2 separate regions of the Homo sapiens genome follow, and region 1 is linked to region 2. Evidence: fine-mapped expression QTL. Tissue or cell type: fibroblasts. Region 2 holds a variant in brackets; the other region holds the start of a gene. All regions are shown on one strand. Distances are between the middles of the regions.

What was found.
Region 1: LINC01060 starts here. The variant in region 2 is fine-mapped to the expression of LINC01060 in fibroblasts (GTEx, PIP above 0.99).

The regions. Positions count from the first base shown.
Region 1 is chr4:188,451,683-188,461,857 of GRCh38, forward strand. LINC01060 (long intergenic non-protein coding RNA 1060) reads left to right here and starts at 3,896. Exons shown (of 5, transcript NR_033869.1): 1 at 3,896-3,992; 2 at 4,982-5,080. LOC105377609 (a long non-coding RNA gene) reads right to left here. Exons shown (of 4, transcript XR_001741960.2): 2 at 5,687-5,937; 3 at 3,756-3,944.
Region 2 is chr4:188,395,091-188,405,265 of GRCh38, forward strand. No RefSeq gene overlaps it. Among named protein-coding and RNA genes, the nearest start is that of LINC01060, 55 kb to the right of the region's middle. RefSeq lists enhancers at 4,482-5,233, 9,761-10,175. The variant G/A (reference allele first, on the strand shown) is at 5,496.

The DNA of each region.
Region 1 (10,175 bases), 57 kb after region 2:
AACTGGGAAAAGAGCAGGTCTAATTTGAAATAACCCAAGGCTAAGGGTGCTATAGGATGGAAGGGGAATTTTTAATCAACACTATGGGCACACATCAGGTGTCCCCGAGGGCCACGCTATGAGGAAGAACCTATGATATGTTCTATCTTCTTGTAACAGTGCTACCCTCTGGGAGACTACTTGCCCAGGGCTGGGAATTTATCTTTGGAGTTAGTTTAGGACTCAGGGTGAAAAGGAGGAGCAGTAGGAAGTGAGGCTATTGGAAAGCTTCTGTAAAAAGTGGCCCCTTCATTATTATTCCATATTCTGACTAAGCAGAGAAATGAACCTGTAGTTTCATCCATATTTTCAAAAGCAAAACTTCTTCTACTAAAATAACTTGCTACAAAAGGTATGTACTAGTTTGGGATTTTGTTTTTTTCTGTCAGTTTGATAAATGCTGTTTGGACTCTCATAATCCCCCTAATAATTGACTGGGGTCAGAGTATCTCTAGGGCGATGCTGCACATTTTAAAACCGCTTCACGGGGTGCTGGTATTCAGAGAATGCTCTTGAAGATCTGTTTCCCATTGACTTTTCAAATCCTGTTAATTGCTTATACAGTAAGCGTTAAAAGTCAGGCCTGGCAAAATCAAGGAAGCTGCAGGGAGCAGATGAAGTTTTCATGCGCAGGAGCACAGCTAGGATGAAACGAGAAGTAACTGCCGTGTCCAGTGTGGCCCAGGTGGAGAGCTGGGGGTGTGCCATGAGACTGTTAGGTCCAGAGGAAGTACGCTCGATTCGCTTGATCTCGGGGGTAACTGAAGAGATAGCAGCTCTCTCTAGAAGTCCTTTTCTGAAACTATTGAGACCTCTGACACTTCAAATCCTTAAACGCAGGAAAAACTACCAATTGATTAGAATGCCCTTGAGAAGATTGAAGTATGAGATGGTGTTGGACTAGTGGTCATTTGTTTCAATCTCAAGATTCTGTATTTCCTATTCTGAAATTTCTATTTATTATAAATCTTATAATCTTTAAAATTCTATTTTTCTAAGTCTGAGATGTGGTTGAATTTCAGTTTATAAGAAGAAATAAGGCATATGTGAATTCCCTTAACAAATCACACAGTTCAATTCCTGATAGTTGTTACCTAACGTTTATAATGTTTCTTTTTATCAAATGATCTTCAATATTCCCTGCCATGAAATGGAAGATTAGTGAATTTTTTACTAAATTATTTTGGCCTTAAAGTCTGTTCTGCCAAATTGAAATACTTGGACAGAACTAACTTTTGCTGTACAAAGTGGACAGTTAGCCATGGAGTGAGCTATTGAGAAGAAAGAATATTTTCTGAGCAGAAAACTCATTCTTCTTTTTCTAATAGCTGTATTAGGAGATTGAATTGGGGCCACTATGCTCTTTCTCTTGGGCAGGAAACATGTACTTTTTTTGCAGTCAGTAATGTTTTCATAGCTGTTATCTGACCCTTACACTGAGCAGAAGAGTTTCTGGGACAGTTTCTTTAAGTTTACAAATAATCAGCCATGTATAGGCTTAAAAAATAAATAAAGATTTCTCATCCATATGAATGAGTGGAGCAAATAAATTAGATGAGGGAAGCTGGATCACAATCTTGAGAGGAAACAAGAGGAAAATTCAGAAAACATTTCACCTATACCTGGTTCTGTTAATACCTTGCCACTACCATATTATGGATGCAGGCTGAATACATGTTTTCAGAGGTTAGCACTGCAGCCAAGCAAGCAAGCATACTGTTAATCTGATATATATAAGGACACACATAACTTACAATATAGTAAAGCAAATAGGCTTGAATGGCATTGCAGTTCACACACACTGCCATGGTGTTGCTATTCAACTTCTGAAACATAATTTTAGTTTTGTCCTCTTGCCTCCCTTGCCTTGCTATAGTGATTTAGCTTTAAAAATGCAAGCCTGCACCTGTCATTTCCCTGCTAAGCATCTCTATTGGCCCCCATGTCCTCAAGGATGCAGACCAAGTCCATTCCAGAACAGCTTCCATGCTCCAGTCCTACCCACCTCAGTAGCCCTATCACTCTTCTTACTTTCTGCTCCAACCACAATACAATTCTAGTGGTTGATCAAAATGTTTCTTTTTCTTTTTTTTTTTTTGAGAGGGAGTTTTGCTCTTGTTGCCCAGGCTGGAGTGCAATGGCGCCATCTCGGCTCACTGCAACCTCTGCCTCCTAGGTACAAGGGATTCTCCTGTCTCAGCCTCCCAAGTAGCTCAGATTACAGGCATGCACCACCACGCCCAGCTAATTTTTTTGTATTTAGTGGAGATGGGGTTTCACCATGTTAGTCAGGCTGGTTACGAACTCCTGACCTTAGGTGATCCACCCGCCTCAGCCTCCCAAAGTGCTGGGATTATAGGCATGTGCCACCTTGCCCGGCCTCAAAATGTGTCTTGATACAAAGATTTCCCCTACACTGTAATGTTCCTCTAATCCTCCCTCTCATAACAGCTACTTATCCCTCGGGTTTCATCTTAAACTTTACATTTAGGGAGAACCTTCCCCCACAGAGCAGACATATCAGGTCCCCTGTGTATTCTCTAATGGCAGTCTTGTATTTCTTTGTAACAAAAATTGAATTTATTTAACATATGACTTTCCTACCATTAAGTCTTTTACTTGAACGAGGGCAGGTATTCAGTAAATGTTTCTTGAATAAATAAATGCATGGTAGTTCTTTATCATTTATTATCATTGGTCTAGTCACAGACTCAGAAGCAGTTGGAGATACTAGTATGATTGAATTTCTCTATTTTTAGTTTCTTTCAAATACTTGCACACACACAGACACACACACACACACACACAGACACACACACACACACACACACACACAGCTTCCTTGCAGTTTCCCAGAAATACAATTCCAGAGCCACAGGTCCCTCATCTCACAACTTGTCCCCATGTTCTCATTTGTCCCTCTGATCTTACTTGTCAGCCCTTCCCAGCACCTGGGGATCGTGCATTGTGAAGCAGCACACTCAGGGGTTCCCTGCTCCGTGTTTCCCTCCCTAATGCCAAAGGGCCAGGAGCCATTGTGTCGCAGAGTAGGCTGCTTCACTTGTGCCTGAGGGAGGACAGACAATATGCTCATCAGGATTCAGGGAGGAGAGTGTGGACGCTCAGACAGAGGAGTGCTGTCTTTGTTTCTCGCTGCTATATCAGAATGCCACAGACTGGGTAATTTATAATAAACAGAAATTTGCTTCCTCACAGTTCTGAAGGCTGAGAAGGTCAGGATTTAGGGGCCAGCATCTGGTGAGGGGCTTCTCACTGCATTCTTCCACGGTGCCAGGTGGCAGTGCAAGAAAGCACATAAGACACACAGCAAGAGGAGGCTGAACTCACTTTTATAACAAACCCACTCACCCCATAATGAATTTACTCCTGTGTTCAACACATAAACTTTTGGAGACACATTCAAACCATAACATGTACTATTGAAATGGAGCTCTGACAGGAGACACCTTGGGTGCCTCAAGCTGGAGATTCTGCTTTGCATCCCCAGTTAATAATTAGTAGATAAAAGAAAGAGACTCTTTGGGCACTGGGACCTGGGGTCTATGAATGTTGAAAAGGAAGAGCAAACCATGACATCAGGACTTGAGTTTCTCACACCCCTTTCTCCCACCCCCACCCAGGCAAAAATAGATACAAAAGAAGAAGGAATTACAGAAGAAGTCACATAACATTATTGCCTACAACTGACTGTTTACCTTGAATACTTGAAGACCAGAATGAAGATTCTTGGGGTGAAGAATTACAGCCTTAGCATGGAGCAGGCCTCGGTGCATCGGCTTTCAGCTAGGCATGCCTGCCAATGTTCAACGTCCTCCTGGGATACGGAAGGCACCGTGATAGACATCTGGGCAAGTCAACAGGAAGGTGGATATCCAAATCTCTCTCTTCGCAATGAGTTTCCAGTTAGATGGAGGAGAGAGTAATAAAACACAGTAAGTGTGGAAAAGATTAAAATGCATGTTGTGATATACCACAGGAAATCAGAGGAGAGAGGTTCATTCTAAGGGGAATGGTGGAAACGTCAGTGAGAACATACCACCTGGGTGGTTCTTGTAAGATGATGTGGAAGAGAAAAGGTAAAGATTGAGCAAAACAGTGCATGAGCGAAGGATGCAATGTGAGATGGTCTGAACAGTTTAAAAGAATAACCTGGGCCAGGCACGGTGGCTCACTCCTGTAATCCCAGCACTTTGGGAAGCCAAGGCGGGTGGATCCCGAGGTCAGGAGTTCGAGACCATCCTGGCTAACACGGTGAAACCCCGTCTCTACTAAAAATACAAAAAATTAGCCGGGCGTGGTGGCGTGTGCTTGTAGTCCCAGCTACTTGGGAGGCTGAGGCAGGAGAATCGCTTGAACCTGGGAGGTGGAGGTTGCAGTGAGCCGAGATCGCGCCACTGCACTCCAGCCTGGGCGACAGAGACTGACTCCCTCTCAAAAGAAAAAAAAAAAAAAAGCATAAGCCGAGGGAATGAAAGTACTTTCTGTGGCTGGAGCACAGGATGTCTAGACAGAAGAATTTGGAAAGAAACAGAGGATACTAGATTTGGAACAGATCATTCAGGTCCTCAAGACCTTGAAAATAAGGCTACAGTTTTTAATATTATTATACTGCAGGCCATTGAAGATAATGCACTTGTTTTGTATTGTTTTTGTTTTTCAGAAGACAGAGTATTAACTTTTTTTTCAGGTTGTAGAATTCATCAATTCCATAACCATTTTTGAATGAGTATTACAGGTCAAGGACTTTTCTAAAAAGATGGATATGGTCTCTTCTGTCATGGGTCTTACATTCTGTGGGAGGAGACAAGCAATAACTACATACAATGAGCACAATAATTGAAGTGATTATGTGGGAATTAAAGGGGTGGGCTATTGACAACTTCAGACACCATGGTAATTAATGGCCTTCGATTTGTAACAGGAGCTGAGATTCCTGACTTCACAGATCCCTGAGGAGATGTTTACTAAAGGGAATCTTCTGGTCACTGTTACCTTCCTCCGTACTTACCTGCCTCATGGAGTAAGCATGACAAAATTCTTGATTACATAGGGAAAATCACATCTTCGATTAATACTTTCCTGTTTTTATTCTTCATTACTACTTGCATGATATTCACATAATCTTTTCTCTTCTCCTGCTTCCTCCGTGCAATAAGCTGCTCAGGCAGCCTTTGCTCTTAAGAGCTTGTTTGTATCTGAGAACGAGTTAAGGCTTTACACTGGTAGTAAGTTTAAGTCATGCCAAAAAGGGGTAGAATACCTGATTCTCCTAGTTTCAAGACAAGCCAGGTTTTTTTTGTTTGTTTGTTTTTTAAAAAAGCAGAAACTTTCATTGCTCTCTCTCATCTGAAACTAGATGAGGCTATCTACTCTGAGTGGCCAGGTCTTCTGTAATTTGTAACTGAAATGCAGGTTACTTGCTCACTGCACGTACAGTTCAGTTAACGAGGGAAATCTGATCCAAAATAAGTGAATTTATTCCGAAGTTAGCTTGGGGGAAGGGGCACAAAGCATCCCGCCTTTGAATGTGCCGCTTCTCCTCTGTTGCAAAAAGTGGGCATTTTCATAGGGTAAGGGAGGACATGAGCAAGGGCAGGGGTCCCACTGCTTCTGGTCAGTTACCTACCAGGCAGTTGAGTTGGCACCTTCCTGTGCAGAGTTCAGTTGTAAAAGTAGCCAAGTGGTCATGCTTTCGATGTGCTGTCCTGGTGCGTATGAGTTCCTAGGTCACCCCTGGAGGATGGCAGTTCCGAGGCACGCCCCTGGAGGTGAGAGTTCCATGGGGACATGCTTTGGTCTGTAAATCCACCGTCAGCTCTGGAGGAGAGACCTGTCTTGGAGCACGAAGTTAGAGGAACTTGCTGTGTAGGCAATGTCCTGTGAGGGAGAGGTGAGAGATTATATTTGCATTTCAGCAGAGCTAAGCAGAAAGCAGAGAGCCAGGGAAAGGAGAAAACAGAGTGAGAGGGAAAAATATAATTAAACCACCCGTAGAAAAATAGGGAGAACTGGGGGCCGGGGCGGTGGCTCACGCCTGTAATCCCAGCACTTCGGGAGGCCAAGGCCGACGGATCATGAGGTCAGGAGTTCGAGAGCAGGCTGGCCAACATGGTGAAACCCTGTCTCTACTAAAAATACAAAAATTAGCTGGGTGTGGCAGCAGGCGCCTGTAATCCCAACTACTCGGGAGGCTGAGGCAGGAGAATCGCTTGAACCCGGGAGGTGGAGGTTGCAGTGAGCTGAGATCGTGCCACTGTGCTCCAGCCTGGGCAACAAGAGCAAAACTCCATCTTAAAAAACAAAAGAAAAAAGAAAAAGAAAAATGGGGTACTTGGTTACATTTTAAGAACCTAAAAATCTAGAATTTCATGCAAAACTCATAATTTTCAAGTTGGTAATTAATTTTCAAATGTAAACATATTGTGGCTCGCAAAGAACAATAAGATCAATCAACCAATAAAGGCAAAAATAGAGAGTAAGGAAGAATCCACACTAAGAAGCGTGAAGACTTGATTAGAGACATAAGCCAAAGAAAGGAGATGTGTTCAGTGTTTACTGCCATGTGCCAAGCAGGGGCGGGTGAAGACAATGGCAATGTGAACAGCTAGGAGGAAGGCAATATCTGGTAAATTAGAGCCGATGACATATGAGTCCAAAGGAGAAAAGAGGACGCTGAACCCAAGCTTGATGATTGGGAGAATGGTGGTCCCGTGACTTGTCCCACCGAAGCCAAAGAAAGAACAGATCTAAGGGATGGTGATCTTTGAGCAAGCTCGTTTCCCTCACACGTTCCAGCGCTGTTTCACGCCAGGCTCTGGGATTGAATGATATCCCTGGATCAGGTTCACTGGCGTCCCCTGCTGGCACAGAGCAGCACAAAGACTTCGAAACTGGATACGCTGATAAATTTATGAAATCTCCACAAACTAGAGAACACGGGCTAGGTGCGGTGGCTCACACCTGTAATCCCAGCACTTTGGGAAGCCGAGGCGGGTGGATCACGAGGTCATGAGATCGAGACCAGCCTGGCCAACATAGTGAAACCCCATCTCTACTAAAAATACAAAAAATTAGCTGGGCATGGTGGCGGGCGCCTGTAGTCCCAGCTACTTGGGAGGCTGAGGCAGGAGAATCGCTTGAAGCCCGGAGGCGGAGCTTGCAGTGACCAGAGATCACTCCACTGCACTCCATCCTAGGCGACACGGTGAGACTCTGTCTCAAAAAAAAACAAACACAAAAACACTAGAGAACATGTTATTAAATAATAGAAAGAAAGAATGCCCATCTGATAAAGGTACAAAACTGACCTTAAAATGACTTAGCACTGGAAAGAAAAAAAAAAGAGGCTACAAATTTTTGGTTACTGAAGAGCCTTTTAAATAAGATTATATTAAAACAGTGGGTAGATCTCTCCAAAGCAGAATAAGAAAACCCCTAATCTTCCTCCTAACTAAATGATTATATGATTTGATGAGTGAGGATTAAGTTCTGCTTTTAAATATAATTGCTGGGTAATATGAATATAAACCAAATATGTAAAATTTAAGATACAAAGATCAATATTCCCAATTCTATAAAATTTGTGTCAACTAATTGTAGATAATAAAATATTTTATGTATTTTTTAGAAGAAGATAATAGGCATAACAACTATTGTGAAATTATCCAAATTTGTACTCTTAGTTGCCAATTTTCAGTTCTTTAGAAAGTGCAATTATTCTTAGCAGTGAGAAACATGAGTCTCACAGAATACATTTAAGTCTTCACTTTGATTTACAACCTCCAGTGTTAATTAAACAAATGCCAACTATGCTAATAGTCTGGAAATCCTTTGACAAATACTGAAAGAAATGACAGGTCTGGCACATACACATATAGATGGAGGCTTGCCTGATTTTTAAGAGGCGTTTTACAGATTTGGCCTTATAATACTTATTCTATAACTATTCATTTTATCCTGGAAAATGTTGTCTATAAAGTTTTGGAGAGAAATTGCTCTGTAGAACAAATTGACATTTCACAGGAATAAGTCCACTATTGCTAAGAAAAATGGTACTGGGGATGGAGCCCCAAAATGGCAGAGGCAAACACAGCCCTATCAACCTCTCCCATCCCCCTGTGTACACATTAGTATAGACTTAGTCTGTCTTTAGGAACAACATTTTTACTGACCTGCTTTCTAAGTTGTTGGTCCCTCCTCTTCCCTGGGATCTACATATCAGGGTAGTTTCATAATTCTCTGTTGTCTCAGTTACGTGTTAAAAGTAAGCATGTTCACTGAGTGATGATTTTACTTTTTAAACAACCTCATCTTTTACCGTACCATCAGTTATATTAAATATGACATTTAAGGTTTTAAAAGTGGAGTTAGAAAGCTACATACTGAGAGGTGAAGCCAGGCGGGCTTCTGACTCATGTGGGGACTTGGAGAACTTTTCTGTCTAGCTGGAGGATTATAAACGCACCAATCAGCACTCTGTGTCTAGCTAAAGGTTTGTAAATGCACCAATCAGCACTCTGTAAAAACGGACCAATCAGCACTCTGTAAAATGGACCAATCAGTGCTCTGTAAAATGGACCAATCACCGCTCTGTAAAATGGGCCAATCAGCAGGACGTGGGTGGGGCCAAATAAGGGAATAAAAGCTGGCCACCAGAGCCAACAGTAGCAACCGGTTTGGGTACCTTTCCCTATGAAAGCTTTCTTTCACTTTTCACAATAAGTCGTGGGTGCTTCTCACTCTTTGGGTCTGCACTACCTTTATGAGCTGTAACGTTCGTGGCGAGAGTCGGTGGCTTCATTCTTGAAGTCAGCCAGACCAAGAACCCACCAGAAGGAATAAATTCCAGACACAATACAATATGTTGGGTGAGCAGATCATGGCACTTATGTCAGGAAAGCTTGTGTTTAATCCTGGGTGTGCCATTTACTAAGTGTGTGATTAGTTGTATTATATATACATACACACACACGTATTTTTTGAGACAGAGTCTCGCTCTGGCACCCAGGCTGGAATGCTGTGGTGCAATCTCGGCTCACTGCAACCTCCGCCTCCCAGGTTCAAGCGATTCTCCTGCCTCAGCTTCCCGAGTAGCTGGGGCTGCAGGCATGAGCCACCATATCCAGCTTTTTTTTTTTTTTTTTTTTTTTTGGATTTTTAGTAGTGACAGGGTTTTGCCACATTGGCCAGGCTGGTCTCGAACTCCTGACCTCAGACGATCTGCCCACCTCAGCCTCCCAAAGTGCTGGGATTATAGCCATAGGCCACTGCACCCAGCCGTATCTTTTAATTTTAATACCCAAATGTATTATCAAGCTAATAAATTTGAATAAAAACAAAATAGTAAAGCTAATATAAATATTAAACTTTTTACACAAAGAATTGGTTCTTTAAAAAGGTTAGCAAAATTGAGAAATCTTTGCTAGAATGATTTAGGAAGAAAGAAGACTCAACTGAAAATCAGAAGTGAAAGAAGAGACATTACTACCAATTTTGCAGAAATAAAAAGGATTGTAAAAGAGTACTGTGAACAATTGTATACCAACAAACTGAACATCTTAGGTGAGATGGACAAATTCCTAGAAACACACAAATGGCCAAGATTGAATCACGAAGAATCAGAATATCTCAAGAGACTTACAGTAAGGAGATTAACTCTGTAATAACCCCCCAGCAAAGAAAAGCTAAGGGCTAGATGACTTCACTGGATAATTGTAGCAAACATTTAAAGAACAATTAAAACAAATCTTTCTCAAACTCTTAATAAAAAGCAAAGTGGAGGGAGTACTGCCAAACTCAATCTACGAGACCAGATTTACCCTGATACCAAAATCAGACAAGTATACTATGAGAAAAGAAAGTACAGACCAATATCCCTGATTAATACTGATGCAGAAATCCTCAAGAAAATACTAGCAATCAGAACTCACAAGACATTAAAAGAATTTTACATCATGGCAAAGTGGGCTTTAGTCCTAGAATGCAAGAATGGTAAATATATGAAAATCAAAGTAATGCCCTACATTCACAGAATGAAGGACAAAAACCATGTGATGATCTCAACTGATGCAGAAAGAAAAAATTTGACAAGATGCTCTATTACAAAACACTCAACA
Region 2 (10,175 bases):
GTGGGGAGTGGCTCTGAGAGGCCGGAGCGAGGCCTGAGTGAAGGGATGGGAGAAGCAAATCCATTGAGTAGGGGTGGGGAGTGGCTCTGAGAGGCCGGAGTGAGGCCTGAGTGAAGGGATGGGAGAAGCAAATCCATTGAGTAGGGGTGGGGAGTGGCTCTGAGAGGCCGGAGTGAGGCCTGAGTGAAGGGATGGGAGAAGCAAATCCATTGAGTAGGGGTGGGGAGTGGCTCTGAGAGGCCGGAAGGGATGGGAGAAGCAAATGGCGCACATTGTGTTTCGGTGACTGAGAGAATAGTGGTTATGTTTAATGAGACAGAAGATTCAGTGGATAAGCAGATTTTAGTGGTGGGTTCAATTAAGAAATTGACCTCATCTTTATACAGATTCACTTCCTTTTAATTTTCTCTCAACACACTCATCCAAAATTTGGTTGTGTTGTTTTTCTGCTGAACAACCTGTATTATTCTCCTTTCTTTTCCAAATCTCCACATTTTGGCCCAACCCGTGTTCCATGGTGAATTCAGACAGTAAAAGAAGCAACTGTTTTTCAAGTGCCTTCTTTGTTATTTATAACACAATGCTTTTTATTCCAATTTTGTAGTTGACTTCTTTTCTCTAATAGATTATTGTTTAGTCATTGCAGATCCTGTTATTCTTCCCAGCAAACAACCTCAAAGTTTCACTGGCTTACAATAAATAAAATTTATTTCTTGCTTGTGTAATTTAATTTTATTTCATGTACTTTTATCCCAATGTACATTTCAATTTGGGACCCAGACCAAAATAGCCATTCAAGTGCGAGGGGTTTATTTTGTAGATGATCCGAAAAGAATAGGAAGTGAGATAGGGAAGAAAATAATGACAAAAAAGGCTTTATTTTCAAGGGCGTTATCACTGTGGACAACTGGAGCTTAATCCTACTGCGGAAACCGAGAAGCCAGGGTAAAATGTGTACCTGAGTAATCCCACCCGTGGGCCAAGGTAATTGTAATATTTACACACCAATTTCCATCAGCCATTGGTCGTGGCTGTACCTATGAGTGATCACTTTCCAGCATTTCAGGCCTAGAAAAAGTAGCCAAGGAGGTTTCAGAGTCAGAGAAAGCCCTCGTGCAGAAAATGTACATGCTAGCATTTACAAATCAGTCAGGTATGCATCGATGTGGTTAGAGTAAAAGGACATAGAGAGGAATCCACTAAATCCATCCAGGAATAAACAAATAAAATAGGAAAAAAAAACCCACTGTTGACATAAGTTAATACTTTTATTTTACCACTATTTCTTTCTTTAGCCCTTTTATTCAGTTACGGCTACTTGTGTACATTAGGTAGGTAGTGTGCAAATTTTACAGTATGCATTAACTCAAATTCTATATTTGTAGTAACTAAAACACGCCTTATTTTTCATCTCTATGCTATTCCCTCCCCTTTCCCCAGTTTCTCTGTGTATGAAGCTCGACTGACTTGTCAAAAGCTCCCTAAAGTGATGTTTTTACAATAAAGTCTCTCCTAAACTTCAGTTAGGATCAATCACTCTCTACTGGCTGCTCCTGTAGAATTTTATCTGTAGTTTTGTTTTGTCATCTTATCACTTTATAATATTATTTACAATCTGTCTGTTAATGTATTGTGCACAGGGCTGGGCGCAGTGGCTCACACCTGTAATCCCAGCACTTTGGGAGGCTGAGGTGGGTGGATCACGAGGTCAGGAGTTCAAGACCATCCTGGTTAACACGATGAAACCCCGTCTCTACTAAAAATACAAAAAATTACCCGGCGTGGTAGCGGGTGCCTGTAGTCCCAGCTACTCGAGAGGTTGAGGCAGGAGAAAAGCTCACCAGGAGGTTGCAGTAAGCCGAGATCGCGCCACTGCACTCCAGCCTGGGTGACAGAGCGAGATTTTGTCTTAAAAAAAAATATATATATATATATATACACACACACACACACACACACACACATATATATATAGAACACCTTTAAGATGATTTGTGTCTTACTTCTTTTTACTTATCCCATGATTGTCACAATAAAGGTTTGCTCACATCATAAGCAAATACCTAAATAGACATGCCTGATTTTCTTACAATTATGGAAGTGAATCTTACTTTGAAAAAAAATCATAAATGCCCCACATTTTTCAATGTGCTTTTGGACATTTCTTAATAACTATGTTTTTATAATATTATATATGTTAAGGCACTTACAATTTTAATGTGTAGTTATATGTAAAATCACATTGTATCGAGTAAGCATTATCAAATAATTCTTTATGATGAAATTAATTTATGAGTTTCTAATAAATACTACAGTATTGTTGGCCAGAAAGCACTAATGAAAATAAATTAAAGGTATTGTTTGTTACTTTAAAGGCTAGGAATTTCTAATATAAAGAAATGTAAGGAATAGTTCATAATTTAAGAACACAGCCACTTCAAATTGTAAAAAAGAATTATCTATTGTTAAAGCGAACTAAATATGGCCTGGGAAGGACTCTATACTTCTATACTTGAGTCCTTGTAGAGGAACCATAACCTAACTTAATAGGACAACAAGATTGAAAACCTAATTTAGGAGTATGTACGTGGAACAATCGCCAGTCCAGCAGCCATACTTCAGCCACTCACACACTGCTGCGTGTTCAAACTGTGTTCGAGTAAGGCAAACTTGTAACCAGTCCAGTTGTTTGTGTAACTCACTTCCGATTTCTGTACATCTTTTTCCTTTTTTTGTCTACAAATTTTCTTCCACGATGTGGCTGTGCTGGAGTCTCTCTGAATCTGCTGCGATTCTGGGAGCTGATTCACGCATCATTCATTGCTCAAGTAAACTCCTTTAAATTTAATTCAGCTGGCCGGGTGCGGTGGCTCACGCCTGTAATCCCAGCACTTTGGGAGTCTGAGGAGGGCAGATCACCTGAGGTCAGGAGTTCGAGACCAGCCTGACCAACATGGTGAAACTCCATCTCTACTAAAAATACAAAAATTAGCCAGGCGTGGTGGTGCGTGCCTGTAATCCCAGCTACTTGGGAGGCTGAGGCAGGAGAATCGCTTGAATCCGGGAGGTGGAGGTTGCAGTGAGCAGATATCGTGCCACTACACTCCAGCCTGGGCAACAAAAGCAAAACCCGTCTCAAAAAACCCAAAAGTTTAATTCTACTGAAGTTTTTCTGTTAACACTGTGTTATTATTTTATCTTTTGATGAAAGGCAAATGATATAAACAAGAACTTGGAATATTTGTGAATAATGTATAAATAAATAGTTTCTGTTTATTCTCTGTATTCTGTTAAAAGTTTTTGCTCTGCTCAATATATCTGGCCATAAAATTCTTTTAAATCCTGTATAATTTTAAAAGCAAATTTGATGCATGTGCAACTTATTTTATTTTATTTTTTTTGAGGCTGTTTGTTACAATGGAAATTGCCTTAACAAGTCTCATGTGGCACATGTGGTGCCCAGAGCATTCTGAAAGTTATGGTTTTGAAAGCAGTCGTTGTGGCGACATTGTCCTAATTAAAGTTCTCGGGCAGTTTTGCCGACATTCAAAACCATCTTCCATTTTTATCCTTTTGTGGTAATATTTATCATTTATAAAAAGGAATTCCAACACCTCTTTTCTATGTATAATCTCCCAACGTTCCTGGTCAAAGCAGTTTGCTCCCAAATTACCAGAAGTGGTCTCGTTGCGGCAGCAGAGCTCCCCTGGTGCACTTCTACTCACGGGTTTGTTGAACGTGTAGCTTTACCCACCTTGAGGCAGAACTGCATGTGCCCGTGTTGGCGCTGACGCATGATGTGTGGTGCACGGATGGAGCAAAGGTGAATATCTCCCCACAGCAGACCTCCGAGGTTCATAAATTATTTATCACATACTTCAGTGTGCTGCCACAGTGATCAGGGCCAGTTTCCAATATGGAGACAAGAGCTCTTTAATCACGCTCTTCCCTGCAAAAGAAAAAGATTGGCATTTAACAGAGAGCTGTAAGACAGGATAGGGATGTGACTGCAGGGAAACCTCCACTTGGAATAGGAGTCGCTGGTCAGTTCTAGACCCAATGGCATGGACTTATGTAGTAATAGTAGTAAGAGTTCCTGAAGATAGTTTCAATCTATTGCCAGCATTCTGTAGGTCTTTATAACAAGCAGGAAATGGATACACATGTCTCTGTTCCATAATTAGAAAAGTATCACCATTTTCCTGGGACAAAAATATGTAAGTTTAAACATTTTTAGTGCCAGGTCAGTAGTCACGATTTACCAACAGCATTTTTTATTTTAAAAATACAGTTAGTGACTACACCATTGGCTAACAAACTGAGACTTAAAGCATTCTCTAGATGCAAATGCTACAAATAAATCAAATTATTAGGCATATTCACTAATACTTACAAACTTAACTTCATATATAAAGCAAGGTAGATCACCAGTGTGGCCATGCAAACAGGGTTTGAGGACTTCAATATTTAAAGCAAGTTAGTCCAACCCACAGCCCAAGGGCCACATGCAGCCCAGGATGGCTTTGAATGAGGCCCAACACAAATTAGCAAATTACTAAACTTACTTAAAATGATGGGATTTTATTTTTTGCCATTTTTTGGTTTGTGTGTTTGGTTTTTAGCTCATCAGCTTTGTTAGTGTTAGTGTATTTTATGTGTGGCCCAAGACAATACTTCCAATGTGGCCCAGGGAAGCCAAAAGATTGGACACTCCTGATTTAAAGGGAAAAGGGAGGGCAGATGAAGAAAGAGGATAAAAAAAAGAGAGAGAAGGTAGACAAAACAGGAAAGTGGTTAGTCTTTGGAGGCTTTGATTAGCACTTACTGAATCTACATTTTACATGTGAAAGGAGTGGGTAGCGAAACAGTGAATTATGCATAGTGCTCAGTGCGTCTGCATTTTTGCATAAGATAAAGTAAACATAGAGGAGGTGCTCAAATATGCATTCCTCTCAGGTGAGCCAAGGGATGCCCTCTAGGCCTGTCTTTGTCAAGGTACCGGTGAAGATAAGCTGTTAGTTTACATTGTCAAGGTGAAATAGAACAGCGTTCTGTTTTAGGGTAAAGCTCTTGGGGCCCACGAGGAATTTCCTTGTGAGCAATTTGTGAAGGAGGCCACCGGGGGAGACATGTGGCCTTCTGTCTTTGCAGCTATCTACTTAGGAACAAAATGGAAGGCAGTTTTTGCATGATGCAGTTACTGAGCTTCACTTTTCCCTTTGGCATAGTGAGTTTGGGGTCCTGAGATTTTTATATTCCTTTCACAGCCTCACTATACTTGAATTAAAATACAATCTACATGTTAAAACTGACCACATCATTCTTTCCTGTGTGTCTTCAAAGGATTTAAGGCCCATCCAGATAATCCAAGATGATCTCATTTCAAAGCCTTAATTATATCTTTGATGACTCTTTTTCCAAATAAGGTCTCAATTAGAGGTTCCTGGAATAAGACACGGACTCATCTCCCTGGGGGCCACCATTCAGCCTGATCC[G/A]GAAGGAAGGCCATGATTTCAGCTCTCTGGGATTTGAGACAAAGAGGCCCCTTTTCTTTCATTTTATCTTTTCATGTCTCTTCTTGCCATGTACCCACATGATTGAGTGTGGGCTGAGGGTGAATCCAAGAAGGGCTTTGTTTTGTGGTCAGTACAGGCTTTGGTCCACAGAGACAACAATACTTTCAATACTCTTTTGTTCTGCCCCAGAGGAGCTCAACACAGAATTGCCTAGAACAAGAAACTGGGTAAGTGTGCTTGGAACATACGCTTGTCTTCTCTTCTTTGGACTCTTGATTGCAACACTCATCTCTGCCTGGATATTCACATGGACTTATACTCTCTGTCTTTTCTTCTGTGTGTCTTCTCTTCTGTATGTCACTGAATGTTGGGCCCACCTGGATAACCCAAGATGATCTCATCTTGAGGTACTTAATTATATCTGCAAATAACATTTTCCTAAATAAGGTCACAGGCATAGTTTTGGGGGACTGGGACATGGATATATCTTTTTGGAGACCATGATTTAACTCACTATAGGCTAAATTCTCAGCCCTAAAAGGGGTCCTACACAAAGTGAGGGCACTCAATGGAAAGAAGGGCTCTGAGATGTGAGATAGGAACATGTGAACAGAACCTTCAACCCACAGATTCCCCTGGACTATCAGGTCCAGGAGAAGAGACTCCTTCCTCTCTCAGGTTGAGACTCCCACGGCCTGGAGATTAGGCAAAGCCTCTGTTCGATCTTTGCATGAAATTAAGTAGTCTTAGTGGTCTATTGCAGGGGTCTCTATCTGTGATTGACCTTTACTTATTTCTTGCTTAATGTACTATCATTCTCTTTTTTTCTTGAATAAGGTAGTTTACATATTAAATTCTTCGCTAAAGATACAGCTCTTAAATTAAAAAATACTACTACTACTACCATTTTGCTTTAGTCAGTAAGTTCTGCCTTAATTTTCTGTCTATTTTATATATTTTGTCTATATTTTGTTGATATATTAAAGTTTTTTCTTGTTTTTATTAATATGATGATTTAAGGCTCTAGAATTTCTTCTGAGTGCAGATCTACCTGGGTCATACAGATGTTGTCATATGTGGTCAGTTCTTTTACAAATATTCTTCAACGTTTTTCTCTTTGGCCCTTAATGATATAAGAAAACTTCCAAAAACTGTATGTTTTTTAGTGTTTTGGAGTTTTATTGTTTATTTAATTTCACTGCATCTTAATCAAATAATTAAAAATGCTTTTTAGAAATTACTGAAGTTTTGTGGTCTGAAATATAGTCTTTTTTATGATCTGTGGAATCAAAAAAAAAAGCATTCTATATTTTTAAGGTGCCAAGTTTGTTATCTGTCAATTAGAGAAAACTATGTGATTTACATTTTTACATCATGACTTACTATTGCTCTCTTCAGCAGTCACAGCCTGATAGAGGTGATGTAATTTTCCCTGCTGTGCTCCTGTGTCTGTGTCTTTCCTTATGCATGCTCTACTTTTTTTTTTTTTTTTTTTTTTTTTTTTGAGACGGAATCTTGCTGTGTCGCGCAGGCTGGAGTGCAGTGGCGCGATCCTGGCTCACTGCGAGCTCTGCCTCCCAGGTTCATGCCATTTCCTGCCTCAGCCTCCGGAGTAGCTGGGACTACAGGCGCCCGCCACCATGCCTGGCTAATTTTTTTTATTTTTAGTAGAGACGGGCTTTCACCATGTTAGCCAGCATGGTCTTGATCTCCTGATCTCGTGATCCGCCCACCTCGGCCTCCCAAAGTTCTGGGATTACAGGCGTGAGCCACCGCGCCCGGCCTACTTTTTGTTTTAAGAACATTGATGCTCTGTTATTTAATCTCTAGAATTCATAACTGGCATATCTTCATTGTGAATCACACGCTTATTTTTTCTTTTCTGCTACTTTTTCTTACTTCTATGCTTTTTCTGCCCTGTGTTTTAAAGAGAAGAAAATCAGTGATGCCACACAAAACACTCCGTGGTAGTCAGATCACAGCGATGGTTTTAACATTTGTAGTGCTGACATTCTGTTCCCGTTCTTGTCTCTTTCACTGAGTTCTCCTACCATCAGGCAGGTTCCATGCTCGTCACCAGGCCCTGGCTGCAACTTTTCATACCCTATCAACATTTGGTTCACTGATGATTGTTGTTTGCTAGATTTTCCAAGCAGTTCCATATAAACAATGTTCCCATATCTTTGAACATTCAAAAATCAGTTTGTATTGCGTTTATACTTGATTGAAATAATAGTTGGTATAAAATTTCCGGGTTGCACTTTCTTGGTGCAAAATTTCACAGGTCTCAGCTCTTTCAGTATTGAATACTGCTACACACTGCCCTTGTGATTACAGATTCAAGCTGGCCATCAGACTTGCAAGACACAGACAGCTTTAATCTGATGCTACATTTACTGGGCTTTAAAGGAGGATACAGGCCGGGAGACACAGCTGGTGTCCTGGGGCACCCACAGCTCCCTTTGCCCTTTCACCTATCCAGGGCCTATGTGGCTGCCACAAACAAGAGTCAGGGTGCTTGCGGGCCACATGGATAATCAGAAGCCACCGCCTTGATTTCCCAACAATTTTTTATGCTATTTCTAGACACAAAGCTACAAGCCACATATTGATTCACAGCCCCCCTGTTCCAAGGGCAATGGAACATAGGTGATGAGGGAGACATTCCACATCTATTTCAAATCTGTAATTTCCAAGTGTGTCTGTTAGCTTCTGTTGATTAGGAAATTATCCCCAAATTTAGTCACTTCAAACAGCAACAGTTTGTTAACCTAAGGATCTGCTGAAGAGTTCCCATGGTCTGGGCTGGCTCTGGCTAATCTCGCCCAGGCTTGCTCACATGACTGCAGTGCCTTAGCAGGATGGCAGAGGGCGACTAGCCCGTCATAGCCTGCCTGTGGTCTGGTGGTTGGCCATTTGCCTCTGGCTCAGCGTGGCGATTGTTTCATTATTTTGCATTCTTTTGTTGTTGTTGTTTTTTGTTGTTTTTTTTTGTTTGTTTTTTGTTTTTCGTGTTTTTTTTGAGACAGGGTCTCTCTCTGTCACCCAGACTGGAGTGCAGTGACGTGATCTCAGCTTACAGCAACCTCTGCCTCTGAGGCTCAAGCAACTCTCCCGCCTCTGCCTCCCAGGTAGCTGGGATTACAGGCGAGCGCCACCACCGCCCAGCTAATTTTTGTATTTTTAGTAGAGATGGGTTTTCACCATGTTGGCCCGGGTGGTCTCGAACTCCTGACCTCAAATGATCCAGCCGCCTCGCCCTCCCAAAGTGCTGGGATTACAGGCGTGAGCCACTGCGCCTGCCTGTTGTTAATAGTGGTAAAATATTTGGTGCAGCTTCTCAGTGGCCACATTTTACAGTTTCGGATGCACTTTCTGGATCGGGCATGCATTTTCTGCTTGTGTAACTCTGCTTATTTTGCATTATTTTAAGGCATTTATAATTAATTCTGATTCCTCATTTTGGACTATGTTTTGTTTCTCCTGAACCGTCTCTTTCCTGTAGGTAGAGGGAAGCATTTCATGGAGGGCCAGGTCCCTGGCTAGGACAAGGTAGAGCCTCACAGTCATATTTGGTATCCAGCGGCCATTGCTCTGCCCCAGCCTGTCATCTGGCTGTGGTGGGTTTGGTGGCCCACGTCTAACTCTACCTCTGTTTCTAGACTGTGACCCGGGACCGGGGGAAATTAGTAGCAGCCCGTGCCTCCAGTGCCACTGTGGCGAGCCCTCTAGGACGGGCCTCTCACATTGGGCTTTATGGTGTCCGCGGCCTCAGTGTCAGTACTCTGCTCCTCCCCACAAGCAGCCCTGCTCAGTTTGCCCTGGGCTGGCAGGCTTTTTCTCTGTGTTGAGGTTTGGCATTTCACCTCACTCCTGTTTTCATTAAAAGTAGACTTTTCCTTTCTATTTCAAGTTCTGTGGATGATTTTGGGAGAATGTTTTCTTTATATCATCTGCAAATACGCTTCCTCATTTCCCACCTCGACTTTCCATCTTCCACTTTCAATCTTTTCTTTTTTTGGAAGGAGGGTGGGGTATTGTCAGAGTTGTATTTTCCAAGAGCCCTTTCAATTTCTCCATTTTTGCCCTTTATCACTGTGTGTGTGTGTGAGAGAAAGAGACATACAGCATACATATAGAAAGATGTGCAAAATGTAAATGTATATTTAACAAGTGGTTATAAAGCCATATAATATGCAACAACCACACAGGTAAAGAAATAAAGTCTTACCAAAACCTAGCAGTCTCCCAGGTGTCCCTCTCCAGTCACCACACTCTTCCTCATGCCCCTACCCCAGTACCCCCAGGAGTCAAACACTTTTCTGCCTTTAGTGTCATCATGTCTTAGCTGTGTTTATAATTTTACCACCTATATATGCATTACGAAAGAGCTGCTTCTCCTTGCTATCTTTTTCTTGCTGTAGGTCTTGTATCTTCAAAGATACTTAGAAATAGGGTTCCGAATATAACTTTTTCTGTTTCTGCACTCTCTCTCTTCTTTTGTGTTTCCTTTAATCTGTCAGACTGATTTTGTTCCACTCACATGAAAACTCTGTCCCCAGTGCCTCCTGATCCTTGCCTCTGCATTCATGACTAAGTGTGATGCACTGGGAGATGACTGGGAGTCCGTAGGGAGTGGGCGTATTGGCCAGTGGTCCT